Regions from separate parts of the Homo sapiens genome. Here regions 2, 3 and 4 are each linked to region 1. The links come from fine-mapping of genetic effects on gene expression. A gene starts in region 1. Each other region holds a variant in brackets. All regions are shown on one strand. Distances are between the middles of the regions.

Region 1 (8,106 bases):
TGTAATCCCAGCACTTTGGGTGGCTGAGATGGGTGGATCACTTGAGGTCAGGAGTTTGAGACCAGCCTACTGAAACCTCATCTCTACTAAAAATACAAAAATTAGCAGGGCATGGTGGTGTGCGCCTGTAAGCCCAGCTACTAGGGAGGCTGAGGCAGGAGAATCACTTGAATCCGGGAGGTGGAGATTGCGCCACTGTACTCCAGCCTGGCAGCAGAGCAAGACTCTGTCTCAAAAAAAAAAAAAAAAAAAAAAAAAAAAAAAAAGAGAGAGAGAAAGAAAGAAAAAGGAAATATCAATTAATCTCTTAAAGTGGGTGGTGGTGGATTTGGGAAGTAGGTTTTAATGAAGATGAATAGGCAAACTTAAAGTTAATCAATAGTCAGTATGCTGACAATCATGAAAATATATCAGTGCTTTCCTGTCTGTTATAAATGCATATTTTATTTAACTCCAAGCAGATTCTTACTCAGAAAAAAATAGGATGCAAAGTGTTCACATATGAAAAATTGCTAGCCGTGTTGAAACAAGGTACTCTAGGTGGAGTACAGTGTTCAGACATTCAAAGAATAGAGTGATTTGCACAGGCAAGTAAGTTCAGTACCATACATTTTAGCCAGACATCACTGTAATTTCACCGCATGACCTATCCAACTGGCTCAATAATCTTCTTCCAAGGCCTCCTTGTCATTTGACCAAAATGTGCAGACACCCTTTAATTTCTCCTAATTTCCTCTTCGTTTATGCCTTGTAGTGAGTGCTTCTTGAAAATGTGTCTGAAGCACATGATAAAAGCAGGATTCACGATATCCCAAAGTTCCTGCTGTTCTCTTTCTTTCCACAGAACTTAGAATGTACTTTCTTCATGAACTACACTTTTTAGCATCTGTCTCCTTCTCTATTCTTCCCTACTTTGCCATCCCTAACTTCTTGCTTCATATTAAGTGTAATTTATCTGCTCTTTAGACCCAAGTTATCCCATCTGGGGATACATGTCTTGATTTTTGCCCAAAAATCTGCAAACACAGTTTTGAGAAAAATTAGTTTTATATTTTACAGGTAGTTCTCCTGTGAATTCCATAACACAGAGTATTAAATGGCTATAATTGCCCTAATTTACATGTCCCAATAGTAGTTTACTGTGTCAGACACTGGGGAAGATACAAAGACGTAAGTAAGGCTCAACCCTAGTCTTCAATAGATTAAAATATACATGCATCAATTCAAGCTACACACATATGAAACATATATCCTGAATAATACAAACCATCTGGTGATGTGTGTTCAAGTCTCCACAACCCATGAGGGCAGACATTTTTGCATTTCTTTTTGTTCACTGATGTATCCCCAGTACCTAGAACAGCCAGTCCCTGGCATATAGTAAGTGCTCAGTAAATGTGTGGGATGAAGTATAGTCTACTTTTTTTTTTTTTTTTTTTTTTTTGCCGGACTCTCTCTCTGTTACCCAGGCTGGAATACAGTAGTATGATCTCAGCTCACTGCAACCTCCACCTCCTGGGTTCAAGCAATTCTCCTGCCTCAGCCTCCTGAGTAGCTGGGATTGCAGGTGCCCACCACCATGCCCAGCTAATTTTTGTATTTTTTTTTTTTTTTTTTGAGGTGGTGTCTTGCTCTGTCGCCAGGCTGGAGTGCAGTGGCGTGATCTCTGCTCACTGCAACTTTGCCTCCTGAGTTCAAGCGATTCTCCTGCCTCAGCCTCCCGAATAGCTGGAACTACAGGCGTGCGCCACTATGCCCAGCTAATTTTTGTATTTTTAGTAGAGATGGGATTTTACCGTGTTGGCCAGGATGGTCTTGATCTCTTGACCTCATGACCCGCCTGCGTCGGCCTCCCAAAGTGCTGGGATTACAGGCGTGAGCCACTGTGCCTGGCCTAATTTTTGTATTTTTAGTAGAGACAGGGTTTTACCATGTTGGCCAGGCTGGTCTTGAACTCCTGACCTCAGGTGATCCGCCTGTCTCGACCTCCCAAAGTGCTGGGATTACAGGCGTGAGCCACCATGTCCAGCCTTAGTCTACTTTTTAAACATAGAATTAAGTACAGTGTACTCTGTTATCAAGGCTGTTTCTGTAATGAGAGCATGGATAACACAAACTAACTCATTAGTTATTAGATATTAGTAAAATGGGTGGAGTTGTGTTGGTTCATATTCAAGGGTTCCCAGCACTTTAATGTTTCTGCACCACCAAGTAACTACAGCTGCAAAACACAGCAGGGTGCATCTAGTTACAGAGAACACAGGGTGCTGTAGGCCCATTTCACCCTACATTCTTTCTCTTGGATTGATTTGGCCTTGACCTCTCTACCTTGGAAGGATTTGTGGGATGTGGGTTGGGGGACAGGACAGAGAGTTCTCCTCTTATTTGTACATTTTGTGTTTATCTCAAGTCAGCAGCCTCAAACAACTCCCCTTCAACAGTTATCTTCATCTTTTTATAAAAGTAAAGTCGTATATTTACATGTACTATAGTATTTATTAGGAATTTAACACAGTTCATTAGCTCTACTGGTATTTTTTTTGGAATGGTTAGTTTTTGTTAGTGCTGTGGTTACAATGTTACATAGATTCTGAGTCATTTTCTAACCCTACTTTCCCCACAAGCCCTGTTATTTCTAGTGTGTGATTTCACAAAATGGAAAGAGCACATATATCCTTTTAGAGCAAAAATGTGGTACTGCAAACTTCATTTTCAATGAAGATAAGTGGAATTTGGCTGCGGGAGAAGATGAAAGAGAGCATTCCAGCTCTGGGAAGAGCATCAGCAACTCTCGTGTAGATACAGGCATGGATCTTTCTCGGGGGGAGGGGAGGATCCCCATCTAAAGAGAGTCCCAGGCTCTGAGAAGTGCGTATGGAGGTGCAGTTGTTGTATGGTTTTGAACTGATGATTTTTAAGGAATTCAGAATGTTCTCTGGCAAAGTGCCTCAGAAAGCTTCTAGAACAGGAAGTGGCCTGCCTGAGGGGTATTCTAGAGCCATTCACCTGTAGGCCTGCGCATATGGATGCAAGTGTAGAGAGGACCCCAGCAGAGAACCGGTAGGAGGCCGCTCACGCCATCCAGTGCCAGATAGCGAGAACCAGAAAGGCGGCAGTGGGCTTGAAAGGACATGGCACCTGGAAAGGCATTAAAAATGAAGAACTAATGGGACTGGCTACCGGGAGTGGAGGAGCGAGGCCCAAAATTGACTGCTAATCTGAATCTGGGCGACTGGTGGATAGAGGTGTCCCAGACAAGGGGCTGAGAAACTGGGAATGGGAGCATTTGACTGGGCGGGGGGCGGGGGGGTGGCGAGGGGTGGAATACAAGATGGGTTTGCCTAGAGAGGTGCCACGTCCTAACAGTTCAATCACAAACAATACTGGCACCTGAATTCATGGCCATTTAACTCTGTTCTTTGCTCCCAGCCCTGGGGGCGGAGCTGGGGAGTTAAAGCATCCCCTCTCTGGACAAGAATGCCTTTTCAGGCTGTTCCTAAAGCGCCTCCGAAAATCATCCTGAAACCGTAATTTTGAGGGCAGGGAAGCTGAGGACACCAAGCATTCTATTTAGGAATAATCTTTGTGACTGTTGGAATTGAGTTTCCACACCTAGATATTCAGAGGGCACGGGAACTTATGTCCGGAGCCTCCTCTCCGGAAGAGGGCGGCGAGGATGGGGGTCCAGGCGCCCCTTGGCCCCTTTCCCGTTTCGGACTCTCCGGGGTCACCAGACGGCCGTTCTTTCCGCTTGGGCCCGGGTCTGGGGGAACTGCTCCTAGCGCCCCGGGGCCCGCTCTCCGCCGGAGCAGCCTGGCCTCTCTCCCCCGGCTCCGTCAGCGCCGCTCTCCGCCTCCGGCCCTCCCGGCAGGGCTGCTCGAAGCTGCTCCGGGAGCTTCCCCGGTGCGGCCCGGAGGAACCTCGCAGGACCCCGGGAGACGCCGCCGCCGCTGCCCGGCGGGCTCAGGGACCGGTTCCCAGGCCCCCACACCCCCTCTCGGGGATCCCCTGTCGCCGACTCCCTCCCGGACCCGCAGGACACTCCCCTCCGGAGGCCGGGCCTGGTCCGCCCGCCCGCCGCCCCCGTCCCGCCCCGCGCGCCGCGCCGGGAGCCCCGAGCCCGACCCCTCCCCCGGACGCCCGGCCCGCTCGCGGGACGGAGGCGGCGATGGTGACTGGGCAGCGGCGCGGGGCCGGGGCCTGGGCAGGGCGGCTCGGCCGCCTCTTTCTCTCGCTGCCCCCGCCCCTCCTCCTCCTCCCTCTCCCCGAGTGCTAGCCCGGGCGGCCGCCGAGCTTGGCGCTCTCTCGCCTCGCTGCCTCCTCCCCCGCGCCGCGGACCCTCTCCCCTCCCTTGCGTTGCCCCCCTCTCCCGCCGCCTCCTCCCGCTCTCCTCTCGCTCTCCTCCCGCCTCCTTCTTCCAGGCGCGGCCAGCGGGGGCAAGAGCGAGGTGGCTGCGAGGAGGCGTCACTGAAAGCCCTGACTTGGGGAAGGCTGCGGGCTCGGAGCCGGAGACGCCGAGCTGGGGCCGGGTGAGTGGCAGGCGTCGGGCCCGCGCGCGCTGCGGGAGGGGAGAGCCGGTGGGCCCGGCCAGGTGGGCGCCCCGCGCGGGCGCATGGGGAGCCGTTGCGGCCGGCCGAGCCCTGGCTGCTTGAGCCGCGGCTGGCGCGGGAACTTCGCTTCGGCGCCCTGGGAGACCGCGCCGAGCGGTCGGAGGTGCTGCGGGATGGGCGTTGGGTGCTGGGAATGGGAAGGGAACAGCTGCTTCTCAGCGCCGCCGGCGGCCGCAGAAGTGGAAAAAAGTTGTGCCGGGAACAGCGTCTCCTCGGGAAGCCGGCGCGAGCCCTGCTCTCTGGGCGTCGCTGGCGGGCTTCGGACGGCGGCGCGTGGGTCCCAGGCGCAGCTGGGCGCCGGGTTCCAGCGCGCCTGGCACCGCTCCCTGGGGGCCGCCCCGTGGTCGCCCCTGCTGTCCCTGGTCCGTGGCGTGTGGGTCACTCTGGCCACAGACGTCAGCTGCTTCTCAAATCTGGACTGCATTTTTGTGGGCAGCTCAGTGATTTGGGGTGCGGGCTGGAAGAGGTGGGCGTGGAGTGGGGAAGACCGCATCTGGGATGGGCGGCTTGAGCCCACGGGCTGGGCAAAGGACTGGGGAGACTCTGCGTGTGTTTCTGGATGTTTTTAGGCACACAGTTTTTTTTTTTCTTTTCCCTTCCATTCAGCGGCCCAGTGTTCTTCGAACTTAGAAAAGCAAAGGATTTTCTTCAATCCCGTTCGACTTTTCTGTTATTTCAGGATGGTCATGAGTTCCATGAAAGTCCATGTGCTTGTTTCAATGGGAGCAACACCAGAGTAAAGACAAAGTCCTATCCCCACCCCCGTCCTCGCCTCCACCCGGGCCATTTCCTGTATGTCCCATTTTCTCTGTTGTGATTGTGCGAGTGTGTTTGTGCATGTAGGTTACCATCGGTGGGTGACCTACGTGGAAAGGAGAACTCTTTGAAATTGCAACGCGGCCGCTATGGAAAGTGTGTGCTGGAGCCGAGGGAGGAAAGATTCCGGCGAGCCAGAGCTGTTAGAGGCTCACCCCAGAGAGGTAAACCGGAGTAACTGAGCTTGAAGGGACATTTATAACCTGCACATTGCTTTTGCCTTACCCCTTGGCCAGAGAGCTCCACTCCTGCTAGGTTTAAGAGAGGATCAGATACTGACTTCTTTGATGTTGACTTTTGCTGGTATTCCTGATTCTTTCCTACTGGTTCTCTTTTAGAAACTACTCCTTTTTAAATTTAAGAGATAGAGAACACATGTTCGCGGGAAGAGGAAATGTTTTTTAAGATAGGAAAGAGAAATAGAATCCAAGAGTCTCATTTCTTTTTGCTGTCATACTGTGATAAGCTTATTGATCTGTTAGAAATCTGATTCTGATTTTGAAGTAATATCAGATAAAACACTATCTTATAATAGTATTTTTCTCTAAGTGGTCACATGGAGAGCAGACTGTGGCTTCTTGTGGTTTGCAAAGGGTGCAGCAAACATTTTATATCAGGAAAAAGACATTGTGTGTTGTAGGAGAGGGGGATGGGGAGGGGCAGTCATTTGTCTTCAGAGCAGCCTAATTAGGAAGAATAATTACACTGCAAATGAACATTGTTGAATATAAATTGAGTCATGATATGTGAACCAGTCATTTGTCTATAGGAAGGAAGAAGGATTTTTGTAGATGAGAACAAAGCAGTGCCTTCTGGAAGAAGTAATGTATGCTGTTCACCGTATGCATGGGCTCGGTGTTGATGGCACCCAGTGTTTGGGCAGGGAGGAAAAGTCCATAGTAGGAGATGATAGAAAAACAATATATAAAAAACTACATATTTATTTTTAATGAACACTATATACAGCTTCTCAACTTCTTTACTGCAAAGAATTGATGAAGTGGTAAACCCAAATATAGGAGACCCAAATTTGGGCTATTGGGCTCCCAGATGTACCTAAACCTTGGGCATGTTATTTAATTTCTCTGTTTCTGTGTCTATAAAATGGTGATGATAATAATTCAGCTCGGATAATTCCCTTGAAGATTAACTGATTGCTTTTGTGCAGGACTTAGGATGGTTCCTCACGCTAAGTGCTCAGAAAGTGTTACTGATGATTATCAGGTATTCCAAATCCCTAGGAAAAAGTGGTGCCTGTTAAACAGCTATAATGCAGAGATACCTGGTTTTAGAGTCAGTGGCTCTGAGTTGAGTCTGGACCCATGCCCTGCCAGCCTACACTCAAAAACACTGATCTTTCTGGAACTTGCAAGCTGCATCCTTTTGGCTCATTCTGATTAGCCTTTTCTGGGCCTCCATTTCCAGGGAGTTTGTAGTGCAGGCAGTATTTGGGTCTAGAGGTAGAACCCAGATGTGGCTTGCAATTCCAAGCTACATGTCCTGTTGCAATGGCAGCTTCAGGTATTAGGTCCCACCAAAGTGAATATCCAAATTTTATTTTAGGTAGAAAGAAAACTATAGTAATGAACATGATAAGTGCCTCTCTTGGGACTCTTAAAAGCAACATTTTACCCAATGCTTACTGCTCTTAGATACAAACAAGAAGCAAATAGCTGATCTCTAGAATTTACTCCAAAAAGCTTTAATATATGCCTTGGGGGCTGGGCCCACAGTGGCTCACACCTGTAATCCCAGCACTTTGGGGGGCTGAGGTGGGTGGATCACGAGGTCAGGGGTTCGAGACCACCCTGGCCAACATAGCGAAAGCCTGTCTCTACTAAAAAGACAAAAATTAGCCGGGTGTGGTGGCATGCATCTGTAGTCCCAGCTACTCAGGAGGCTGAGGTAGGAGAATCGCTTGAACCCGGGTGGCGGAGGTTACAGCGAGCTGAGACGGCACCATTGCACTCCAGTCTGGGTGACAGAGCAAGACGCTATCTCAAAAAAAATGTGTGTGTGTGTGTGTGTGTGTGTGTGTGTGTGTGTGTGTGTGTGTGTATGCATCTGTCTGTCTATCTTGGGGTTAATGATGCAATTCCCAGTTTTTGCTAAGATTGTGCCCAAGAGAAAAGTGAACTGAAGACATTCTTAGCACAATAGTACTTCTTGAGAAGAAGAACTCTGCTAATTTAGGGAGAGTGCCTGTTTGTTCCTTCATTTATCCAGTCATTCAGCAAATACCTAGGGAGCCACTCCCTTGGGCCAGGCTCTGTTCTGGGCTCTGGTAACACAGCAAGTACCAAGAGTAGGCCTCTACTCTTACAGAGTACACATTAGAAGAAAAAAAAAAAACCCATACACCTCTGTTTTCAAAGGACTTCCATAGACCCTGGAAGCTCCCTTTTTGACTCAGAAGAGCTGTACTGGAATGCAGCATGTTGGGTGTCCTTGCCTTCCACTCTCCAGCCTGGTCAGAGGGAAGTGATCTGGCTGGGGCTGGGGGTGGTAGCAGGGTATGGCTAGTCCTGTGGGTCTTCCAAAGGGAGAAGGGGAGGCCTATTTGTTTCTGTACTTTAGAAAGTATTCAGTTTTAGTGGCTGAGCACAACTACTGGCCAGTGAATCAAATTGTTTCGCATGCAATGAAAACAAACAGCTTGCAGTGTACTGAGCACCATAGA
Region 2 (8,085 bases), 140 kb after region 1:
ATCTGGTGAGGTAGGCTACCCTTACCGGCTCAGACGAGGGAGCTCTGAGAAGTTAGGCATCCATATGGTCAGTGCTGGAGCTGGCTTTGGAACCCATACCTGATGGACTCCCTTCCCTTACCCAGTGCTTGGCACAGCGCTGTGACACACGCACACACACCCTGACAATTAAGTGCATATGTTCCTAGTAGTGCACTAGCTGTGTCCCCAAAATAGCATCTTGTATAGCAACTACCATGATATGAGGATTTTAAAATACATCATGTTTCAAGGGATGGGTAGAGTCACATGCTCACTAGGAAGTCAGCCAGCAGGCAGACAGCTGGTGCAGGGTGTAGAAACGGGCATTTTAAGCTTTGACACTGGGCTTCCTTATTTCTCCGCTTCTCTTCCTCTTCGATAACTCCCTGCCTCACCCCACTCCCAACATGCCAGGGGGCTCTTTGCAGTTCTCATGGAGTTGATTTGACCTCGGTTAATGAGATCTAATCATTCAGAGCAGGGCCATGTGCCCAGATGTGAGCTATGTGATTGTTCCTGGCCTTGGAATGGGGCAGAAAATGGGGCTGCAAACCAGCCCTGCTGGCCCCCATTTCAGGGTCCAGACTCCTCTGAAGAAGGCTTGAGCCACTGGAGCAATGTCTTCTGGTAATGAAGTCATTCCTCCGTGGAGACAGAATGAGGCCTCTGTGAAATGAGAAACAATGGGCATGTTGAGTTCCCGACCTGGGGTGAATCGAAGCTTAGGCAGAGGCACATGGGATGAATTGGGACAATTCAAGGGATGCATTCTTCATAGACAAGGTTCTGTTGTCAACAAGTCCACTCAGTTGTAATGATGCTTAGTTAACGGTCATTAATGTCTTTTAAAAATAATTTCCCCAAGTAAGTCATGAACTCTTAAGGTTTTTTTTTTTTCCCCTCTGAGTTTTAATTAGTGTAAATTATTTTGTCTAAAAATCACCCTGTGAAAAATGGATAAAGTATAGGTATGGGAGCAATGTTTTGTTTATTCTTTTACATGTGATTCTTTCCTATTTACCTATGAAGCAAACACACTTATGTCTCTGCTAGTAATTTAATTTCGAGGAAATAAAAGCGGGGTGTTGCTACTCTCTACTGTTAAGCAAAAGCGCTTGGTCCAAGTTTCTCAAAACTTAGCTCACCTAGTACCAAAACAGCAGGCAAAAAGTCTTGCAAACTTAAAAACAAAACAAAACATCCACTAATAGAGTTGATTGCCAGTCTTGCCTCCTCCTCTCTGGATCCCTGTGCTGTTTGACTTTTTCCAGTAAAAGATGAGGGAGCGGGAGCCCTGTCCTAAAAGTGCAGCAGCAACCAGGACAGTGCCCCCTGGGTTGGGAGCAGGACCTGGCACTGGCCGCCTCCTTCCATGGTGCTCCCTAGAGATAAGGTTAACTGCCACATAGAGTTCTAAGTGCAGTGAGGTCAGGAAGAACTTGAAACAAACGCAGCCAGTGCAACAACCGCCTGGCATGCTAGCCAGGCCCGGGGCTTGCTGGCAGGGTTCTGCGGGCACGGGCCGGACTTGGACGGTGTCGCTGCGCGGCGGGAAGGCGGGGCGGGGCCTGGCGGCGCTGCTAACCGCCCTCCCTCTCCCCTAGGTGAGGCCGCAGGCGGTGCTCTGGGTCCGGGAGCGCTGTCCCCAGCATGAACGCGGCCGGCGGCGGGAGTGAATGACTGCAGCTGCGACTTCCTTCCCGGGCCGCCCGAGCCTCCTTCCCCACCGACTTTCTTGTTTTGATTAACTCCGTGGACTCCTGACTCTTTCTTCGCCCGGAACATCAATATGTGTCATGTCATTGTCACCTGTCGCTCGATGCTCTGGACCTTGCTGAGTATTGTGGTGGCTTTTGCCGAGCTCATTGCCTTCATGAGTGCAGACTGGCTGATCGGGAAAGCGAGGAGCCGCGGCGGCGTGGAGCCGGCGGGCCCGGGCGGGGGCTCCCCGGAGCCCTACCACCCCACCCTGGGCATCTACGCCCGCTGCATCCGGAACCCAGGGGTGCAGCACTTCCAGCGGGACACGCTGTGCGGGCCCTACGCCGAGAGCTTCGGCGAGATCGCCAGCGGCTTCTGGCAGGCCACAGCTATTTTCCTGGCTGTGGGAATCTTTATTCTCTGCATGGTGGCCTTGGTGTCCGTCTTCACCATGTGTGTACAGAGCATCATGAAGAAAAGCATCTTCAATGTCTGTGGGCTGTTGCAAGGAATTGCAGGTAAGAAGGCAGGACCCCGGGCACGGTGGGATGGAGGGATGGAGAGCTGCCGGTGCAGCGCACTCTGGTACTGGGCATTCGCTTCCTGCTAGTTTTGGAGAAGACCACTTTCTGTCTATTCAGGTTTCCTTTGCCCCTTCCGTTCTAGGCGACGTTTGTGTGCTGCTCGCATGGGTCTCTTTCCCCTGTCTTACCCCACAGGAAGACAGGCTTGTTCTCTGGTCTTACGTGGTCCTCCTCATTGCTTATTTCCTCGGGGTCTAAGCTGTTGGTTTTAGTTTGAGTAACTACTCCTGCTTTTTGTTTTTCCCATTAAATTAAAAGCATGCTCTCCACTTCAGTGCAACTCCCTGAGGAATTATGGAGAGCGTGAGTCCCACCTGCAGCAAGCACTTTATGCTAAGAGGAATGTAAGCGGGGGCGCTCATTAAGAAGCAGCAAGCCTGCTTTCCGCATCCACTCTCAGCTCCAGCCCCCAGATGATTTCAGCTTGGGTGGGAAAGACACGGGCTGGGAAGGAATTAGTATCAGCTGCTCTGTGTTTAGTGATGTTCTGGTTTAAATTGTCTGTCTCCTAGAGCCTGACAGAATGTTCTGTGCATTCAGATCAGAAAATGCAAGCGAACTCTTCCATTTTCTGGGAATTTCTCACTAACGAGCTTATTAGAAATGGGTGGAAAGTAAAAGCATGAGCTCTTTACAGTGGTCCCAGGGAGAAGGTTGTGAGCTGCAGGAAAGCATCCACTGCTACCAGTATTTTCGTAGGCTTCCCCGCATGGGTTTGAAAGGTGAGTCCTGAACCAATGGGGTAACAATCTGTCTAGGTTTGATTCAAGGTTCTTGTTCTGGGTGACAGAAATTCACACACAAAAACACATGGCTGAGTTTGAATACATCCCCAAAGAAGTAGAGTAGACTCTTGCTTTGATATTCAGAAAACAAGTGCTTACTTTTTAACCAAGACATTAATCTAGACTCTAACAGGACAAAGTTACCCACCTACAACACTAAATGAAGGGCACAGGTGATTCATCCCTCAGCAAATTCTAGAGCTGTGTGCACAGGATTCTTCAAAATAAAGCTATGCATTGAGCCATATGTCCAGGGCTGTAAAGCAGCAGCCCCCAAACGAATTCACTCTAGCTGGCCTCATAGCAAACTCTTGAGCTCAGCAGGGCTGGCTTCCAAATAAACAGATCAAATGACAGTTTTTTCCCAAACAGCCGATAAGATAAAGTTTACTGTTCCTCA[G/A]ATCTTAGGAGGCCCCTGTGTAGGGTGGAGGTGGGGGATGGGGAGTAATGGGCCAAGAGAAATGACAGAGGGCCTGCTCCTTAGTTCTGATTTGCTTTCATGGGGGAATACACCATCCAGACACCAGGCCCTTTAAACTTTCTGGCCCAAAGGGACAAGTCTCAGGTCCCTCATCTCTACATCTGCCAGGATCAGCCACACCACAAGTGACTCAGGCACTCATGGAATTTGGGAGACCAGGATTCTGTATTTCAGCATTGCTCCTCATTAGCAGTTTCACTTGAGATAAATGTACCACCCCGGGTCTCAGTGTTCTCCTTCTGAAAAATAGGGAGATTGGAAAATGTGACCTTCCTTTGGACTTTTTAGGCTTAGAGTTTGATTCTGTGAAGCTCCTTGTCCCCTTTTGACTCACTTCTGAAGATGACTCTCCCCTTCAGCTTGGCATCTCACCACCCAGAAATATTAAAGGTGGGTTTCAAGATTGATTCATCATTTTCTTGTCAGAGAAATATCCCTGCTTTATTCTCCTTGGACACACGGTGCCTCAGGGGCATGTGTGTGTGTGTGTGTGTGTGTGTGTGTGTGTGTATGCATGTGTATATCTTAAAACTTTTGCAGGGAAGTATTACTGAAGGCTTTTGAAGAGTCAAACATGTAGCTCAAGGGAAGCCAGCACACACTAATTATTAATCCTGTTGAAGAGCCCTGGTTGACCAGAGAGTAGGATTTCTGTTTAGTTTTCCCTCGCTCTGTTGTATTTGCACATCCTTGATGATTTCATGCCTTTATTATGGGCTTTATTGATTTGCTGGTATGTAGATGAGACTCCTGGTTTGTCATGTAGGAGTGCTTCTTATCCTGAGGAACTTGATGGTGATCTAACTACCTTCGAGCAAACCAGTGGCCATTTACTGGAAGGGGTGGGACATCTTGGGCCATAACACTAAACCTATCTTTGGCAGTCATTCAGAAGCAAAGCATAGGTATCCTTCAAGACTGTTTACATGCAGTTTATAATAAGGCGTTAGTTGAGTGAATTCCATGTCTGAGTGTGGATTAGTCCAACATATTTTGGTACTCTGGTGTGCATCACATTAATGGCAAGGTGTTCATTATTGCACAAAGATTAGTATGGCTCTCAGGTATTATTTGAACACTCCAGTGAGTTTTCTTTTTCTTTTTCTTTTCTTTTTTTTTTTTAAGACAGATTCTCATTCTGTTGCCCAGCTTGGAATGCAATGGCAGGAACTTGGCTCACTGCAACCTCCACCTCCCAGTTTCAAGCGATTCTCCTGCCTCAGCCTCCCAAGTACCTGGGATGACAGGCACCTGCCACCATGCCTGGCTAATTTTTGTATTTTTAGTATTGACAGAATTTCATCATGTTGGCCAGGCTGGTCTCAAACTCCTGACCTCAAGTGATCACCTGCCTCCGCCTCCCAAAGTGCTGGGATTACAGGTGTGAGCCACTGATCCTGGCCTCCAGTGAGTTTTTTCTGACTTTTCTCTCTGCACAAGGTCTCTTGGAGGAAGGTTGAGGAGAAAGAAGTGGGAGCACTGCTGAGGGCTGGTGCTGATCTTCTGCCTCTTTCCAGTCTGGAAGCTTTAACTTCCTCCCTACCCCTGTTACTTATGCAGCATCTCAAAAATTCTGAAATTACTCAGAATTTTAAATTGGCACAAGGCAGAGATTCCTGCATAGTTTGACTGCTGTCTAGGAGCCACTGATCTAAGACTAAGTGCTGAAATACAGGAAAGAACTGGTTTCTTTTCTCCTTCCAGCCTAGCATCACCCCTCAGAGAAAAAATCATAAAAAAGAGGGACTGAGCTATCCTTCTCATGATTCAGTGGGCACTTTCTCCCCTATTGGAGGTCTCATCATGCACATCAAGCCAATGTAAAGGGCAGCTGTGGTTCTTGAATCTGTGGCTGAGGACATTGCCATACTGGCATCTGAAAGGGCTGGCTTGCTTTCTCCCGTTGGCCAATCTGTGATAGCCTCTGGTCAGCCCCAGCCTCAGCAAGGACTTGCTGCAGCTGGGAGCATCTGCCTTTTCTCTCCCTATGCCCCCTCTCCCTCAGCCCTGGATCTCTTCAACACTGAAACAAATGGTGAGAAAGGAGGCTGTTGCCAGAGCAACAAAAGGATTCTTTAGAAATACACTCAGGCTGTGTTTGTTCTTACAACTTACATTTTGGCAAAAATGTGACTGGATGAGAAATGATCGTAAGCATATTCTTTTGCTACACCTAATTTTAAGATATAAATAGGCCACAGGCTTGTGTAGCCTTCACTGTCTATAAAAAAACACAGCATAAATAATCAAAATCTTGATATTCTGAGTTTAGAAACTGGGTGTGAAAGAATCTGCTACTTCAATGGAAATCCCAAACTCTGGGCTAACTTAAGCAGTAATGAAATATAATCATTGCCTGTTATGTGAATCCAGATAGCAGGATCTGCCTTCAGGGCACCATTAGGTGGACACCCGGCTGATACTTTCTAAATACTGTGCACATGTCCTTGACATTCAGCACTCACTCAGTAATGAGGGTTCAGGCCTCACCTGAATGTGCCTGTGAAACACGGACCAATTTGCCTCACTTTTCTGAACCATAGTTTTCTCACTTGTAAAATGGGCATAACAATAGGTTTATACCTCAGGACTGTTCTGAGGATTAAGTTAGATAATATATGAGAAAGGCTTAAGCATAGTGCTTAACACACAGTAAATAATAAATGGTAGCTATAGAATCATTATCAAAGTATTTCTGCTTTCTTGGCAAGTTTTAGTATATTATTTGTTTCCCGGATTTGTTGCATTCTACGGAACAGGGATATCTTGTAGCTTTTAGAATTGACCTTACTCTGTTCCAATCAAACACAAATACAGTGTGTAGGGGCCTTCCCTGTCCTTAAGAGCCTGCCTGTGTTGGAGCTCAGGGTGCACAGCAGTCCTGTGGCTTTGGTGTAACCAGGGGTGTCCTCAGATCATTTTTTTAAAAGGCAGGAGAGAGCAGTCAAATTGACAAGAAAACAGAGCTCCTTCCTCCCCCTCCCCTTCCCCTGACACACACATTTTCCATTCCTTCTCTTTCTGGAGGCAGCTTCTAGCCGTTGAGTGTTGATTGCAGGTGGCTTCTGAGATTCTCCTGGCGGAGTAAATCACAGGTTGATTAGTCTTCATGAGGTGAGAACTTGTCCAAGGACTTGGCAGAGGCAGCAACACACATCAGTTTGCATCCCTCTGGGATTCATTACAAAAGCCGGGTGATCAGCCAGCAGGGTTGGCTTTTTGCCAGCTGTCTTCCTTAGGTTGTGACCTGGATGTAATCCATCGTGAAACCATAGAATGCAAAGATCCAGGTTTTCCATGACAACATCAAGCAGTTTGTTTTTGGAAATGCGTGTAGGGCTCTCTTAGAAGTCCATGGAATCCCCAGTGACTCAGGTTTGGGACCGAAGCCATTAAACTGAGCTCAGGATTTGGCTCACTTGTGCTGGCTGGGCCTATTCCACAGGGACTGCCATAAGCATGAGCCACCGGCCAGCTGCCTGCTATCTTCCAGTCTTCCCTTTATGCTGGGCTGGCTCTCACACTCTACTCCCTCCAGCCCTCTGCCTGCATGGGTCTCAGTCCAGCAGGACAGCCTTAGCAAGCTGCCCCACCAGTCTGACCAGATAGATTGCCCTGGGGCTGAACCCTGCCTCTGCAGGGCTGGGGTGAAGGGTGTGTGGTCGTGGGAATGGCGCTGGCAGTGGCGGTGAAGGGCCTGGTGTATGCAGGCTCAGCCTTCTTGGAAGTGAGCAATGATTGAGGGTGAAAGAGGACAACATGAAAAAAAGCAATAAAAGGAAAAGCAGAGACAGACACGTGGGGGTTTTGCCTTTGCTGCTTATATAATTGCTTTTGTCATAAATCTGATGCATGGAAGTATGGGTGGGCATACGAAATGCAGCTGATCACTCTCCAGGATTTGGTATTCTTACTGCTTTTTACACAGGGTAAAAAATCACCTTAAGCATCAAGGTTATGACCATAGCCCAACCCCATGACTGATCTCATGCCCTACTCATTCACTCTCAGGCCCAAAAGACAAGGTCAGCCACTGAGAGGAGAGAAATCAGAACAGGGGCTTGGGAAGCATAGGGAGATGGACGGAGATGCCTGGCACACATGGAGCCCTGCCTCAGAATTTTTCTCCTGAAAAAGTCACCGGGCTTTCTCTGGGGTGGTGTGACCTTGGTTGCCCACCTTCAGAACACCCTCAAAGAGGCATGGGGAGAGTAGAGGGAACAGCCCTTCCTTTTGTTCCTGGTGAGCACAAGGCCCTGAGGACTTCTGGCTGCCAAAGGGAGGCTCTTGGTTTCTGGCTGTCCAGACAGATGATGCTCCACCAGAAGTCAGGTCCAACAGTTCCGTGTCTGAATCAGTTTTAAAATACCACTGATAGGACACATTTCCTAATTCATCAGCCTTTAGTAGTCCCTTGGTAAAAAGTAAAAAAAATGCAGACATGTTATGAGAAGGTAGGTCAGAATTCAATTTCAGTCCTAGGCACTTGTATTGGATGCCTACTATGTGCAGA
Region 3 (8,106 bases), 170 kb after region 1:
TTCAGAGTTTGCAACCTTGCCCTGAGTGAATCATGTTAAAGCTGTCTGAGTCTAAAGCACCGTATCTTGGTGCAGAACAGATAATTATACAGAGATGGAATGGGACAACCGCAGTTTTACTACATTCTGGTGTTTGGCCTATATGAGAAACCATCTTCTCACAGATTAAGGGCTAAGGGCAAAAGGGGTGGGAGGTGTGGAACTAGCCTTAATGAGTTTCCCATTCCTGAACCAAAATTCAAAGTGAGTGAGATGTAAATCCTGTGATTTTGGTGAAGAAAAAAACGGGTATCTTCATAGCAGCCTAGGAAACCTTAACCATATCTCTAACACCACACAGAAAGAGGCTGGAGGAGCCACTGGACAAAGCTTCTGTCTCTGTGTGTACATTTATAATGTTCTAACCAAGTCTCAAACCTTGATGAAAAACACAAAATTTTTCCATAAACTTATCAGAAGACTCACTTTTCTTTCTTTCTTGGATAGAGAAACCATTTTCTGACACTAGGTTTACAATCTCAGTGTCCTTACAAGTTAAGTCCTAAGCTCACAGGATCCTCCGAGCATGTCCATCACCTGCTCTTTGGCTAAGGTGGCAGTGTACCTCTAGATCAACCTGGGAACAGTCACAAGGGAGTGTGACTTCTTGGCCATAATAAACTCACTCGATAGTGTTTATGTTATTAATCTGAATGCAACAGAAGACAAAAGCACAGGCATGCACACACACAGAACCCCAAACCACTAAAAACTACCTAAACACTGACTTAGTAAATAGTAAAAAGGTAATGTTGGGACTTTTAAACCTTGAATCCATTAGCCAGGCTTGGGATGAAAGGACCATCTAAAATCATGCTAGTCTAAACCATGCTCTTCCACACAGCTGTTTAAAAACCACTGGGTATGAGGAATATGCTAGAAAGAAATGTTAAAAATAGATTGTTGGCTCACACTTATTTTTCTAATAAATAGGACCATTATTACTACCAGGAAAGTCTTATTTATTTTGCCTGAAATTGGCTTAAAGAAAGTCTCATGACGGGATGGGATGGGCTGCGCTTCTCAATGAACTCTGAGGCAGAAATATTTGCCTTGGATTCTGTGGATTCTTTAAACCTGTGTGCTAATAATTCAAACAATGTTGCATTAATTGTATAAGGGTTTTTGTATAGTTTTCAAACATCTGTGGTGTAATGATCTTTGTTAAACATATATTCTGTAAAGTGCCATAGTCTTTTTTTATGTGTAGCATATTTAAAAATATATATGTATATTATACATACACAAGTTTGTGTGAAAGATGTGCAATAACAAAGGTGTATGTATGTTTTGTTGTTTTGTTTTGGAAACTGGACAGGAGTCAAAACAGGGATGTTTGTTTCTGTTTTGGCAAGGAGAGTTCCACATTTTTGCCTTCATGGCTTATTCAGTAACCCATAATTTTAATGCTACACAAATCTTATGTGAAGAAAAGACTGGTATGAAATCATTTTTTCCTGGGTCTAAAATAATCGCTAGTGTTATGTCAAAGTTAAGCCCGCACGCCAGGCCCAGTTAATGCTAGTCTTTCATGTGAAATGTGAAGCTGCCATGTTGCCTTTTCTCTTAGTAGGATAACTAGTAGCTGGTACATAATCACTGAGGAGCTATTTCTTAACATGCTTTTATAGACCATGCTAATGCTAGACCAGTATTTAAGGGCTAATCTCACACCTCCTTAGCTGTAAGAGTCTGGCTTAGAACAGACCTCTCTGTGCAATAACTTGTGGCCACTGGAAATCCCTGGGCCGGCATTTGTATTGGGGTTGCAATGACTCCCAAGGGCCAAAAGAGTTAAAGGCACGACTGGGATTTCTTCTGAGACTGTGGTGAAACTCCTTCCAAGGCTGAGGGGGTCAGTAGGTGCTCTGGAGGGACTCGGCACCACTTGATATTCAACAGCCACTTGAGCCAAATATAAAATTGTATTTACAGCTGATGGACTCAATTTGAGCCTTCAAACTTGTAGTTATCCTATTATATTGTAAACTAATACATTGTCTAGCATTGATTTGGTTCCTGTGCATATGTATTTTCACTATGTGCTCCCCTCCCCAGATCTTAATTAAACCAGATTTTGCAATTCATTCTTATTCTTTCAAGTCTGAGTATACTGGCTTCAATATGATGTGTATAATCTGATCAAGAAAATACCTATCAATCAGTCAACATTTATTTTAAACACTAACTTACATGTAATATTGATGAATGGAAAAAAGATATTCAGGTATTTTAAACTATCCCATTCACTAGTAACATATATGTCCCTACCCTGGGCTATCTTTCTTTAACGTCAAGTATGTATTTCTTCCTTGAAGAAGCATCAACACAATTGTAAATAGGAAAAAACATCTCAAGTATTGTAAACATATATTTTAAAGTAAAGCTATGAAATATGAAAATGCTCCGAAGTATTAAAAAGGGATTTTCAAACATAAATATGTAACAATGACAAGGGGAAAAGTTAACTGAAAGACACATCCTCCTCTTCCAACAACATCCCTAAAAATAAAAGCCAATGATACGGTGCCATTCCACATCCATGTTTCCTGAAGGTAATCCTGGCCATATAAACCCTCATCCAGAAGAGGTGGAATTCTAATTTATAAACTCAAGAATGACACTAAATGCCCTTCTCAACTCTCAACTCTCTGTATCCCATGAAGCATTTATTATTTCATACCAAAAAAAGGCAGTTTCTTCCCCTGATCTAGGGCCTATGACAGTTGAAATTAGATTCATGTTTTGGTTTCTAATAAAAGCTGACAAAGTTACCCATATCAGTTTAAAAAAACCACACACAGTTTTCCAAATAATCATGATTTGAATAACCCAAGAAAAATTAGAAAATTTCCATTGCTTTTTCAGCTGTTATTGTATTCCCCAAAAGTTAATCCACACAGAGAATGGACCCTGGTTGAATTTTAGCAGAAGCTGGGGAATCCTCCCATGTGCTTCCCCCGCTTCCCATCCTTAGTTGTTATCTAGCAATTCTGCTACTAGGTCCACTTTCCACACTGATCTTTCTGGAACATGCTGCATTCAAATTACACCTACACCCCCTTAAAGTTTTTGCTTAACCAAACAACCACTTACAACGGTCCTTACTAACGTGGATATTTTATGTGGATATTATTTCA[G/A]TAGTTTCAAACAATCTTTTTCAACTCTCAAACAATGAAGGGTAGGGTATCAAAGCAAACTTTACTCTTCAAAGCAGTAAGAACCAATAACTTTATTTCAGAGGCCCTCACTAGCAGCTGAGTCATTTGGCAGAGCCATCCCACTGCTCCCCCTACTACTATCTTCTTCCTTGCAACTTCCTCTCCTTACCCTGAACAGTTGTGCAAGATAAGTCTTGCAGACAAGAACTGCCAATTTTACTAAGGTACACAGGACACAGATAAAAGCACACAAAAAGAGGAAGTAGTGAAACCAAAACCACATGGGAAAGAAAAGTCAATCAAGTAACACATTGCTATTAGCAGCTTTTTAGCTTTTTCTAGCCAAACATCCTGAAAAATTGAACACCTACAGGTAGGCAGTCCAAATGCCTATGTTTAGGGGAAACCACTATGATTTTATTCACAAGAGACGAAAGCCTGAATTAAGGCAGTGATGGTAAAGGACAGTCAATGGGATGAATTCTATGTTAGGGAAAAAGAATGGGCAGGTGACTGATCAGAAGTGGAGAGGAAGGAGAGGAAAGAGTCTAGGATGACAGCCAGGTATTTAGCGTAGACACTGAGTGGAAGGTGATGTGATCACCAAGATGAAGACTCCAGAAGAAGCAGGGACAATGAAGGTGAGGAGGTTCAGCTTAGGCTGCCAATGTAGAAGTCCTGTGTGCAGCTAGGACTATACTAAGGAGAGAGAGAGATTTGGGAGTCATCAATACACCTGAGAGATGGTAAGTGTCCTTAGTTATTGTGCAACTTCTATGGGCAGATACTATGCTAAATACTTCATAAAATTCATTTATTCATCAAAATCCTATGAGATAGAAACTGTTACTATTGTTTTACAGATAACTGTCACTTAAATAACTGAGGTTAAATAATGTATCCCAGGTTAGAAAGCTAATAAGCGGAAAAGCCAAAGCTCAGATACATGTTTGACACCAAAGGCAACTCACTCAAACTGCTATGTTGTTTCCTTCTACCTGGAATGCACAAGGTGGGAAGGCAGCCAATGCAAACTCCTGGGCAATATCTCTACATTGTAAACACTTAGAATAACTTCCAAATAAAACTCCAAAAGGGCCTCACCATCACAACTGATGAAAACACTGCTTCTTCCTCCCTTTCAGAGAAAACACCTAGTGATTTTTCATAATTTTGAAGATGACACCATATGTCTCAATTTATCAATCATGATTTAGCTCAATCCTGAAAACAGACACAAGAAATTCATTAAGTATGTGACAGTGGGAAAATAAATGATAGGCTTTGACAGTTTTTATTGTTTTCTTAGTATAAATAATCTCTCATTCAGGGTAAGCAACTATTATAATCACATAAGAAGCATATTTAACCTAATAATAAGGATTTGTCCTCGACTAAAGTTTCTCCAAACACACAAACGCCAAAGACCCTTTAGTAAATTTACACTGCTGAAGAATGGGCAGCAGGTACTCACCTTTAGGTGGCAGGTGTTAGCATTTGGTCTGGAGACTTCAAAAATATATGTAAAAATTTTTTTTGTTGATTTTTTTTCTAGTATCTGTTGTCCCTAAAGGATGGACATGAATGACTGGAAATGTGGAAGGATGAAAGGGAAGACAACTGGAACGAGGCGGCATGGTGGGGCAGCCACGCTTGGCAGGAGTCAGGGGACCTGCCTGTTCTCATCATCCCTCTCCAGCCCTTCACCACCACCACTCACTGAGTGACCTTGGGGTAATTTCCTAGAACTCTACAAAAACAGAGCCAACAACAGAAATTATATCACAAGTTTGGTATGAAAATTAAGTGATGTATATAAAGCATTTAGTACAGAACACTGGTATATAATTAAGCCCACAATAAGCTATTATTAGAAAAAAACTAAGAAAATACTACCCACCCAGACTAATATCATTTTAAAATTACATTCTATGAAAGGTAACATAACTTGTCGAAACCAGTGTAATTTTACCTGGAGAGACTCAGTGGATTGGCTACCTGAGGCCACCATTTCTTTTTCCATCCTGTTATAACAGAGCATTCAGCTAATTATCTTTACCTTAGAGCTTTCAGGAAGCAGAAGATTTCTCAGTGGATGCAGGGTACTCAGTTACTCCTATTTAGCAAAAACAAAAACAAACAAACAAACCGGTAGCATTGGGTGAGCACATAAGCCATGTGAAACCAGAATGCTCAGAAAAGAAACCTGATTTGTCAAAATCTATTGGGATAAAAGACTTTTTAGAAAAGGAACATCCAATGCTGGCCAAGGATGTGAAGAAAGAGGCCTTTCCGTACATTGCTGATGGAGTTACATATGGATAAAATTTTTCTGGAGAGCAACTTGGCAAAGCACATGAAAGGTGCTTTAAAAACTATGCATAATACCCTTTAACTCAGCAATCTGTCCTAAAGAAAAAACAAAAGCCCGAGTCCCCAAATTTAGCAACAATATATTCCTTGATAAATTATTTATAACTTTAAAACCCTGAAAATCAGAACCTAAAGGAATAACAAGACTTTATGATACATACATATGATGTTAGCTATATAGCTATACTAAATGTTACAGAAATATATTCAGAGATATTAAAATCTTCAATACATATTTATATCATAACTGAAATAAGATAAACTGTTGTGTTAAGATCCTCCAGTTAAAAGTAATAAGAAACCAATTCAAGATAGTTGAGGGAGAAAAAGCGGTAAGATTATGAGGATAATGGGATAAGGGTGAGAAGTAGGGCTCCATAAAGGAAAAGGAAAGCCACTAAGATCTTTTCTATGTCATTCATTTTACATCTCCTGTTATGTCTGTTTCATTCTTCATTTTCATTGCAGACCAGCTTTCTTGGTGATTCCTTCCTCATGGCAGAAAATGGCTACCTCTTATGTTCCAATTCTGGAACAGTAGAGTTCTAGACATATCTACATTCAGAATAAAAAACTGATAAGCCAGGAATGAGTCCACTATGGCCAGATGACATCCAGTACCAATGTGGACTTTAAGGACCCAAAGAAGTGGGGCTTTTGAGGAGTAGGTAGACATCCCTAAAGGATGTACAAGGATGTACGGGGTCATCTCATTTTTAATATTAGGAAGTTGTCTTCCTAGAAAAATAGAAAGATATAAACCAGATTTTAATAGAAGTTATTCATGGATGTAAAATTATGAGAATTTTGGTTATTTCTTTTGCTTATATTTTCTATAATTTATACTGAAATATACATTAATTTTATAAATTAAAAAAGTTAATTTAAAAAACTAAACTATTGCGCCATTATGACATAAAGCTAAGTGAGGGGAAAATAAGGTTTTTAAAAATCCATATTGCTTATATCTCTTAACTAAACAAAACACATATGCATAGAAAAAGAATGGAAGACAATAAAATATTAGCAGAGGTACCCCAAGATGACAGAATTAAGGATTTATTTTTATTTTCTCATGTATCACTTTCTGAATTTTTAATTGTTCTACAACACATTATGTATTGCTTTTATACTAGAAAAAAAGTGTGAGGGATGCATAGGCCCAGTGGGTTCAGTTTTTGTGCAGGAGACTAGAATACTGTAGATACCACAGTGATCACCAGATAAAAGACACTGATTTTTGGTGTTTTCCCCCATCCCCAAAATACCTGAATACTACTACAAACTGCCAACAGTAACAACTACTACAATCATGATTTATCTTGAGAATCACTGGCATACAAAATATTAAAAGTTGTGGAGGAATTCTAGAATTACATTTAAGTAAGCACTGAAAATAACTAGAATTTAAAAATAAAACTTGTATGGTATTATTCTACAAACTAGAACTGTTTTAATGTATAGAAGATAATATTCACAGTAATCTTATATTACTAGGTGGATGATTAACTATTTTCTGCTCCTATTACAGAAAAGATTAAATGGCTTTTAGTGTTAGGAGGGTTTCAGCTACACCATCAGCCATGTCAAGCCCAGAAAGATATGAACTGAAAAATAAATCAGGATTTGGACAAACACAAAGTTTAACACTCACTACATTGCCACATGATAGTTCCCATGTTCCCTTGCCATTTGAAACACGGCCAGCACTAATGAAAATTCTTTTTTTTTTTTCTTGAGATGGAGTCTCGCTCTGTCGCCCAGGCTGGAGTGCAGTGGAGAGATCTCGGCTCACTGCAAGCTCCGCCTCCCAGGTTCACGTCATTCTCCTGCCTCAGCCTCCCAAGTAGCTGGGACTACAGGCGCCCGCCACCATGCTCAGCTAATTTTTTTTTTGTATTTTTAGTAGAGATGGGGTTTCACCATGTTAGCCAGGATGGTTTCGATCTCCTGACCTCGTGATCCGCCCACCTTGGCCTCCCAAAGTGCTGGGATTACAGGCGTGAGCCACCACACCTGGCCAAAATCCTATACATTAAATGTTTGTCTTACCCAAACCCCAAAGTTAAATTGTAAATATAAAACCCACAGCGGGGGTGAGAAAACTGGAGAACAGTCTTTCTCTATTTTCCTACAATCTTCAAATAAGAGGTATCTGCTTATATAAGACAGGTTAGTGGCAATACCTGGCTTAGAAAGTTTCTAGATTTATTTCTAGCTCTCTACATACTGTGATAAAGTCCTAAAGTTTAAAAATACCCACCAATATTACAGGCATGCTGCTTTATAAAATATGCCCTAAAATTCTAGCCAAAATACTTCACTTTCTGTAATACTTAATATGTGAGATAAAACTTTTTAGCTCAATAAAAAAGTATTTAAAACAACTCATGTTTTAAACACATTAGTCTACTCTAAATAAATGTATACTATTGTACTTTAAAATGTATCAAAGTAAGGTGTTTTCTATTTTTTAACCATCCTCAATTTTTTTAAAATTAACCAATCTTATTTCATCTCTAAAGGGCTTAAT
Region 4 (8,106 bases), 190 kb after region 1:
TGTGATTCTCCGAGAGGACAAAATGGCATAATACTGGTGAAGTGTTCTGCATAGGGCCCAGAGTATGGCTGAGCAAAATAAAAGTGATTTCATCATTAGGTTATTAAGGCCCATTTGATGGCTTTATGGCATGTAGTGTGTTTTTACAACCTTAGCAATGCTGGTGTTTCTGAATGTAGCCCTTCTTCGCACTGCCACCAAAATGCCGTTCCCAATCCCAGATCCACGTCAAAAATCTGCAGAGTGCCAATTTGTTGGGGTTTTTTTAAGGTTAATATAGGAATTATATATTAAATGGACTGCGAGAAGGATGAGGGAATATAAGTAACCTGTAAAAAGAATTTCTGGATTAGCTGAGGTTGGAAATGGAAAAGATACTAAAAAGGTATCTAAGAAAGTGAATTAAAAAGTAATGGAAGTGGCTGTGCGTGGTGGCTCATGCCTGTAATCCCAGTAGGCAGAACACGAGGTCAGGAGATCAAGAGCATCCTGGCCAACATGGTGAAACCCTGTCTCTACTAAAAATACAAAAATTAGCCAGGCATGGTGGCACATGCCTGTAATCCCAGCTACTCAGGAGGCTGAGGCAGGAGAACTGCTTGAACCAGGGAGTTGGAGGCTGCAGTGAGCAGAGATCACGCCATCACACTCCAGCCTGGTGACAGAGCAAGACTCTATCTCAAAAAAAGAAAAAAAAAAATAGCTGAGTGTGGTGGCGCATGCCTGTAGTCCCAGCTACTTGGGAGGCTGAGTCAGGAGAATCGCTTGAACCCGGGAGGCGGAGGCTGCAGTGAGCCAAGATCGCGCCACTGCACTCCAGCCTGGCGACAGACAGATTCTGTCTCAAAAAAGAAGTAATGGAAGCACTGACAGAAGCAATCACAGCACTGACAAAAATGTTCAATGGAATTACATAAAGTGCTTAGTGCCATCTCATTAGTAGGTATTCAATAAGTGTTTCTTCAAAAAAAAAAGCTTCATTAAGATAAAATCTGTATACTATGCATTTTACCCTTTAAAGTGTACAATTCAATGATTTTTAGTATATTCATAGAGTTGTGACTATAATATCTACACAACCTAATTTTAGAATACTTTCATTACCCTCACTCCCCACCCCACCCATAAGCCACAGGCAAGCTGTAATACATTTTCTGTCTCTATATATTTGCCCATTTTATACATTTCACAATAATGGAATCTATACAATATGTGGTCTTAATAAATGCTTCTTGAATATTACTCAGAACGTTCAAAAGGAACATCTATCACTAAGAAACTGAAGAGTTTATGAGGCATTACTGTGAGAAGATGACATCAATCAACAACTGGAGATGAAAATGACCAATTGAAGATGCAACTAAAGGTTTATGCAATGCATTATCTTTTCCAATTCCAAGATTCTAGGTCATCTAGGTAGAGAAGAAACTGAAATAATAAGGGAAGATGAAATTCCCAAAGAAAATGACTGCATAGCACAAAGAGCCGATTACATTTAAGACCTTAATTTATGAACTGGATGAAGAAATGGAGGAGAAAGAATAGCCAGAGAGTCAAGAGAATTAGAACATCATTGCAAAGTCTTAGCAGAGGAGCCATCTGTGGTGTAGAAAGCTACAGAGGTTAAGGAGGAGGAAAACTGGAAAAGGGATTTAGTAACATTAGAGAGCTGAGTGTCAATGGTATGTGTGTTTGGTGCAGAAGAGAAGTTAAAAATTTCAAATAGAGAAAATATGGAAGAACGGACACAGTCTAACCTTCGTAGGGTTTTGAGAAGGATAAAAGACAAATGTCTGAGTAAAGTACTGAAAGAGTAAAAGTGGTTTTAAATATAAGGTAAAATTATTTCTATGCATTCCTCATACATAGTCTCAAGTAATGAAATGGTAAAAAAAATTATAAGGACTTATTTTCTTTAAAGTGAGACCTATCAAAAAGTCTTTTTCATTTAAAACATAGGTGTTATTCCCAAGGTCTCAATATCATGTTTGAATACATATAAAATATATCAAAATTACATATATCCAAGACAAAATAAAACTTTAAATAAACAAATAAAAACACTAATTTACCTTCCTCTATGTAATGATTTTTTTTTTAAAGCTGTGAAAACAGACATGGGAATTCTACAGGAAGAAGTGTAGCTAAAACAACTGGGCAGTTACAAATCCTAAATGACTCCTAAACCTGATAACTAACTTGAGTAAAGTTTCAAGATACAGACTGGGTGTGGTGGCTCACACCTGTAATCCCGAACTTTGGGAGGCCAAGGCAAGTAGATCACTTGAGGTCAGGAGTTACAGACCAGACTGGCCAACATGGCGAAATCATCTCTACTAAAAATACAAAAAAAATTAGCCAGGTGCCACATCTGTAATCCCGACTACTCAGGAGGCTAAAACATGAGAATTGCTTGAACCCAGGAGGTAGAGGCTGCCGTGAGCCAAGATCACACCACTGCACTCCAGCCTGGGCAACAGAGTGAGATTCTGTCTCAAAAAACCAACAAAAAGTTTCAAGATACAAAATCAACATACAAAAATCAGTAGCATTTCTAAACACCAACAACGTTCAAGCTGAGAACCAAATAAAGAACCCAATCCCATTTACAATAGACACACACACACACACACACACACACACACACTCCTACACACATCCAGAATACATTTAACTAAGAAGGTGAAAGAACTCCATAAGAAGAATTGCAAATCACTGATGAAAGAAATCACACATGACACAAAGAAATGGAAAAACATCCACATTCATGGATTAGAAGAATCAATATTGTTACAATGACCATACTGTCCAAAGCAATATATAGATTCAATACAATCCTATCAAATTACCAACATCATTTTTCACAGAAGTAGAAAATACAATTCTAAAATTCATATGGAACCAAAAAGAGTCTGAATAGCTAAAGCAATCCTAAGCAAAAAGAACAAAGCCAGAGGCATCATATTGCCTGACTTCAAACTATAGTGCACAGTGGCTCACACCTGTAATCCCAGCACTTTGGGAGGCTGAGGCGGGCGGATCACTTGAGGCCAGGAGTTAGAGACCAACCTGGCCAACATGGTGAAATCCCGTCTCTGCTAAAAATACAAAAATCAGCCAGGCATGGTGGTTCACGCTTGTTAGTCCCAACTACTTGGCTGTCTGAGGCATGAGAATCACTTGAACCTGGGGAGGCTGAGGGTGCAGTGAGCCGAGAT[T/C]GTGCCACTGCACTCCAGCCTGGGCGTCAGAGCAAGATTCTGTCTCAAAAAAGAAAAAAGACTATGGTAAGCAAGCAGCATGGTAACCAGTACAAAAACAGACCAATCGAACAGAGAACCCAGAAATAATGCCACACACCTACAACCAACTGATCTTTAACAAAGCTGACAATAATGAACAATGGGGAAAGGACACCCTATTCAATAAATGGTGCTGGGTAAACTGGCTAGCCACATGCAGAAGAATAAAATTGACCCCTACTTCTCACCACATACAAAAATTAACTCAAGATGGATTGAAGACTTAAATGTAAAACCTCAAACTACAAAAATCCTAGAAGAAAATCTAGGAAATACTCTTCTAGACATTGGCCTAGACAAAGAATTTACTACTAAGACCTCAATAGCAAATGGAACACAAACAAAAATTGACAAATGGGACTTAAAGAGCTTCTGCATAGCAAAAGAAACACTAAACAGGCTGGGCGTGGTGGCTCATGCCTGTAATCCCAGTACTTTGTGAGGGCTGATCATTTGAGGTCTGGAGTTCAAGGCCAGGCTGGCCAACATGGTCAAACTCCATCTCTACTAAACATATAAAAATTAGCCAGGCATGCTGGTGCACACCTGTAATCCTAGCTACTCAAGAGGCTGAGACAGGAAAATTGTGTGAACACGGGAGGTGGAGATTGCAATGAGCTGAGATTGAGCCACTGCACTCCAGCCTGGGTGACAGAGTGAGACTCTCTTTCACAAAAGAGACAGGAAGACAGAAAGAGAGACAGATAGAGGAAAGACAAGAAAGGAAGGAAGGAAGGGAGGAAGGAAGGAAGGAAGGAAGGAAGGAAGGAAGGAAGGAAGGAAGGAAGGAAGGAAGGAAGGAGAAAAGAAACCAAAAGAAAGAAAGAGAGAATAAACAGAGTAAAGAGACAATCTACAGGATGGGAGAAAATATGTGCAAACTATGCATCTGACAAAGGACTAATATCCAGAATGTATAAAGGACTTAAACAAATCAACAAGAAAAAAAAAACCCCATTAAAAAGTAGGCAAAGGATATCAACAGACACTTCTTGAATGAAGACATACAAGCAGCCAACAAATGGAAGAAAACTCAACATCACCAATCAGAGAAATGCAAATCAAAACCACAATAATTCCCATCTCACACCAGTCAAAATGGCTATTATTAAAAACTCAAAAAACAACAGATGTTGGCAAGGATGCAGAGAAAATGGAATGCTTATATACCGTTGACGGGAATATAAATTTGTTCTACTTCTGTGGAAAACAGTATGGAGATTTCTCAAAGAAGTAAAAATAGACCTTCCATTCAACCCAGCAATCACCCTATACTGGGTATCTAACCAAAGGAAAAGAAATCATTTTATCAAAAAGACACCTGCACTCATATGCTTATTGCAGCACTAGTCACAATAGCAAAGTCACAGAATCAACCTAAGCGTCCATCAATAGTAGACTGAATAAAGAAAATGTGATACATATACATCACGAAATACTACACCACCTAAAAAATGAAATTATGTCCTTCGTAGCAACATAGATGCAGCTGCACGCCATTATCCTAAGTGAATTAACACACTAACAGAAAATCAAATACTGCATGTTCTCACTTAGAAGTGGGAGCTAAACAAAGGGTTCACACAGACATAAAGATGGAAACAGACACCGGGGACCCAAAAGGGAGGGAGGGAGAAGAGCAAAGCTTGAAAAACTATCGGGTACTATGTTCACTATTTGGGTGATGGGTTCAATAGAAGCCCAAACCCCAGCATTATGCAACATAACCATGTAACAAACCTGCACATGTTCCCTCTGAATTTATAATAAAAAATTAAAAAACAAAACAAAAACCTAAGAGATATATATGAATAAAATGTACATATCACATAATAATTTTACTTCTATTTATTAACAGGCTAATATCCTTCATATCAAAAAAAAGAAATTTAGAGTATATTTAAAAATCCAAATTTTAAAAATGAGGCTGACTCTTTAACTCATGAAAGCCTTCAGTTAAAATGATTTTAAAATATTCCCTTTTTACTGAAGTTTAAAATGTGATGCAATTTTCTAAAATGTACTTATGCATAACTTTTAATTGTAAAAAGTAATCCTCAGAGAGCAAACTCATACAATAACGATAAAATGGCTTCAGGTTACACCAAATTATAGCAAAATAGGAAAATGAGAACTTTACATCACGTTCACTATAAAAATTTAGACATAAAATTTCACTTACTTTTTTGAACATAACTAGTGAGATGACTGCTGATGCTGTGAAAAGTGCTGCTATGATTATCATCATGATTCCAACAGGAATATTTTGGTTGAGACCAGTAAGGGATGAAATCCAACCACTAAAAAGTAATAAAAAGTGTAATTAGGCAAAAGTTGATGTAAACTTTTTAAAAATAGCATAATATCTAACACATATTCAACACTTATCAGCCAGGCAATATTCAAGTTCTTTATGTGTATTAGTGCATTTAATTCTCACAACCCACCCAATAGGATAGATGCTGTTTTAAATCCCCATTTGACAAATGAGGAACTGAGACATTCAGTAATCTGCCCGAGGTCACACAGCTTATAAATGGCATAGTCTAAATTCAAAAGCAAACCAAACTCCAGAGTCTCAAGTGTTTAATTCCAGACTGTACATTTTTTAAGCTGTACATTTTTTAAGCTTATGAGTTTTGAATTTATTATTACTCTTTTTTTTGAGACAGAAGCTCGCTCTGTTGCCCAGGCTGCAGTATAGTGGCATGATCTCGGCTCATTGTAATCTCCGCCTCCTGGGTTCAAGCGATTCTCCTACCTCAGCCTCCTGAGTAGCTGGGATTACAGGTGCGTGCCACCACGCCTGGCTACTTTTTGTATCTTTAGTAGAGACGGGGTTTCACCATGTTGGTCAGACTGGTCTCGAACTCCTGACCTCGTGATCCACCTGACTCGGCCTCCCAAACTGGGATTATAGCGTGAGCCACTGCACCTGGCCTATTATTACATTTTTTTAAATGTTTATTTTCAATTCTGCTGAATTATGAAAGAAGATATTTATAAACCATATATCCAACAAAGGATTCACATCTAGAATATACATAACTTTCAAAGCTCAACAGAATACAAAAATTAAGAAAATGGATAAAAGACATGCAGAGACATTTTACTAAGAGGACATAAAGACGACAAATAAGCACATGAAAAGATGTTCAAAACCACAATGAGATATCACTACACACCTATTAGGATGGCTAAAATAAAAAGTAATAACCACTAAATGCTGGTGAGGAAGTGGAGACTAAATTGCTCATAATTGTTGGTGGGAGTGTAAAATAGCACAAGCATTCTAGAGAACAGTTTGTCTGTTTCTTTAGAAAACTAAACATGCGGAGAGGAGCCAAGATGGCCGAATAGGAACAGCTCCGGTCTACAGCTCCCAGCGAGAGCGACGCAGAAGACGGGTGATTTCTGCATTTCCATCTGAGGTACCAGGTTCATCTCACTAGGGAGTGCCAGACAGTGGGCACAGGTCAGTGGGTGCGCGCACCGTGCACAAGCCGAAGCAGGGCGAGGCATTGCCTCACTTGGGAAGCGCAAGAGGTCAGGGAGTTCCCTTTCCGAGTCAAAGAAAGGGGTGACAGACGCACCTGGAAAATCGGGTCACTCCCACCCGAATATTGCGCCTTTCGGACCGGCTTAAAAAATGGCGCACCACGAGATTATATCCTGCACCTGGCTCGGAGGGTCCTACGCCCACGGAGTCTCGCTGATTGCTAGCACAGCAATCTGAGATCAAACTGCAAGGCGGCAGCGAGGCTGGGGGAGGGGCGCCCACCATTGCCCAGGCTTGCTTAGGTAAACAAAGCAGCCGGGAAGCTCGAACTGGGTGGAGCCCACCACAGCTCAAGGAGGACTGCCTGCCTCTGAAGGCTCCACCTCTGGGGGCAGGGCACAGACAAACAAAAAGTCAGCAGTAACCTCTGCAGACTTAAATGTCCCTGTCTGACAGCTTTGAAGAGAGCAGTGGTTCTCCCAGCACGCAGCTGGAGATCTGAGAACGGGCAGACTGCCTCCTCAACTGGGTCCCTGACCCCTGACCCCCGAGCAGCCTAACTGGGAGGCACCCCCCAGCAGGGGCACACTGACACCTTACACGACAGGGTATTCCAACAGACCTGCAGCTGAGGGTCCTGTCTGTTAGAAGGAAAACTAACAAACAGAAAGGACATCCACACCAAAAACCCATCTGTACATCACCATCATCAAAGACCAAAAGTAGATAAAACCACAAAGACGGGGAAAAAACAGAACAGAAAAACTGGAAACTCTAAAACGCAGAGCGCCTCTCCTCTACCAAAGGAACGCAGTTCCTCACCAGCAACGGAACAAAGCTGGATGGAGAATGACTTTGACGAGTTGAGAGAAGAAGGCTTCAGACGATCAAATTACTCTGAGCTACGGGAGGACATTCAAACCAAAGGCAAAGAAGTTGAAAACTTTGAAAAAAATTTAGAAGAATGCATAACTAGAATAACCAATACAGAGAAGTGCTTAAAGGAGCTGATGGAGCTGAAAACCAAGGCTCGAGAACTACGTGAAGAATGCAGAAGCCTCAGGAGCCCATGCGATCAACTGGAAGAAAGGGTATCAGCAATGGAAGATGAAATGAATGAAATGAAGCAAGAAGGGAAGTTTAGAGAAAAAAGAATAAAAAGAAATGAGCAAAGCCTCCAAGAAATATGGGACTATGTGAAAAGACCTAATCTACGTCTGATTGGTGTACCTGAAAGTGATGGGGAGAATGGAACCAAGTTGGAAAACACTCTGCAGGATATTATCCAGGAGAACTTCCCCAATCTAG

Evidence for each region. PIP is the estimated chance that this variant, and not a neighbour inherited with it, causes the effect.
Region 2: its variant is fine-mapped to the expression of LHFPL2 in whole blood (TOPMed, PIP 0.98).
Region 3: its variant is fine-mapped to the expression of LHFPL2 in blood mononuclear cells (TOPMed, PIP above 0.99).
Region 4: its variant is fine-mapped to the expression of LHFPL2 in whole blood (INTERVAL, PIP 0.91).

What each region holds. Positions count from the first base shown.
Region 1 is chr5:78,644,922-78,653,027 of GRCh38, reverse strand. It overlaps LHFPL2 (LHFPL tetraspan subfamily member 2), which reads left to right and starts at 4,256. Exons shown (of 5, transcript NM_005779.3): 1 at 4,256-4,529. It also overlaps the pseudogene HMGB1P21. RefSeq lists silencers at 3,718-4,657, 4,948-5,007.
Region 2 is chr5:78,503,939-78,512,023 of GRCh38, reverse strand. It overlaps LHFPL2 (LHFPL tetraspan subfamily member 2), which reads left to right. Exons shown (of 5, transcript NM_005779.3): 4 at 1,626-2,240. The coding sequence starts at 1,811. Among named protein-coding and RNA genes, the nearest start is that of LHFPL2, 140 kb to the left of the region's middle. RefSeq lists silencers at 1,623-1,672, 1,953-2,042 and enhancers at 1,285-1,906, 6,646-7,154. The variant G/A (reference allele first, on the strand shown) is at 3,492.
Region 3 is chr5:78,479,250-78,487,355 of GRCh38, reverse strand. It overlaps SCAMP1 (secretory carrier membrane protein 1), which reads right to left. Exons shown (of 9, transcript NM_004866.6): 9 at 6,617-8,106. LHFPL2 (LHFPL tetraspan subfamily member 2) reads left to right here. Exons shown (of 5, transcript NM_005779.3): 5 at 1-2,126. Among named protein-coding and RNA genes, the nearest start is that of SCAMP1, 120 kb to the right of the region's middle. The variant G/A (reference allele first, on the strand shown) is at 3,180.
Region 4 is chr5:78,456,738-78,464,843 of GRCh38, reverse strand. It overlaps SCAMP1 (secretory carrier membrane protein 1), which reads right to left. Exons shown (of 9, transcript NM_004866.6): 8 at 5,482-5,599. Among named protein-coding and RNA genes, the nearest start is that of SCAMP1, 100 kb to the right of the region's middle. RefSeq lists an enhancer at 6,904-7,513. The variant T/C (reference allele first, on the strand shown) is at 3,219.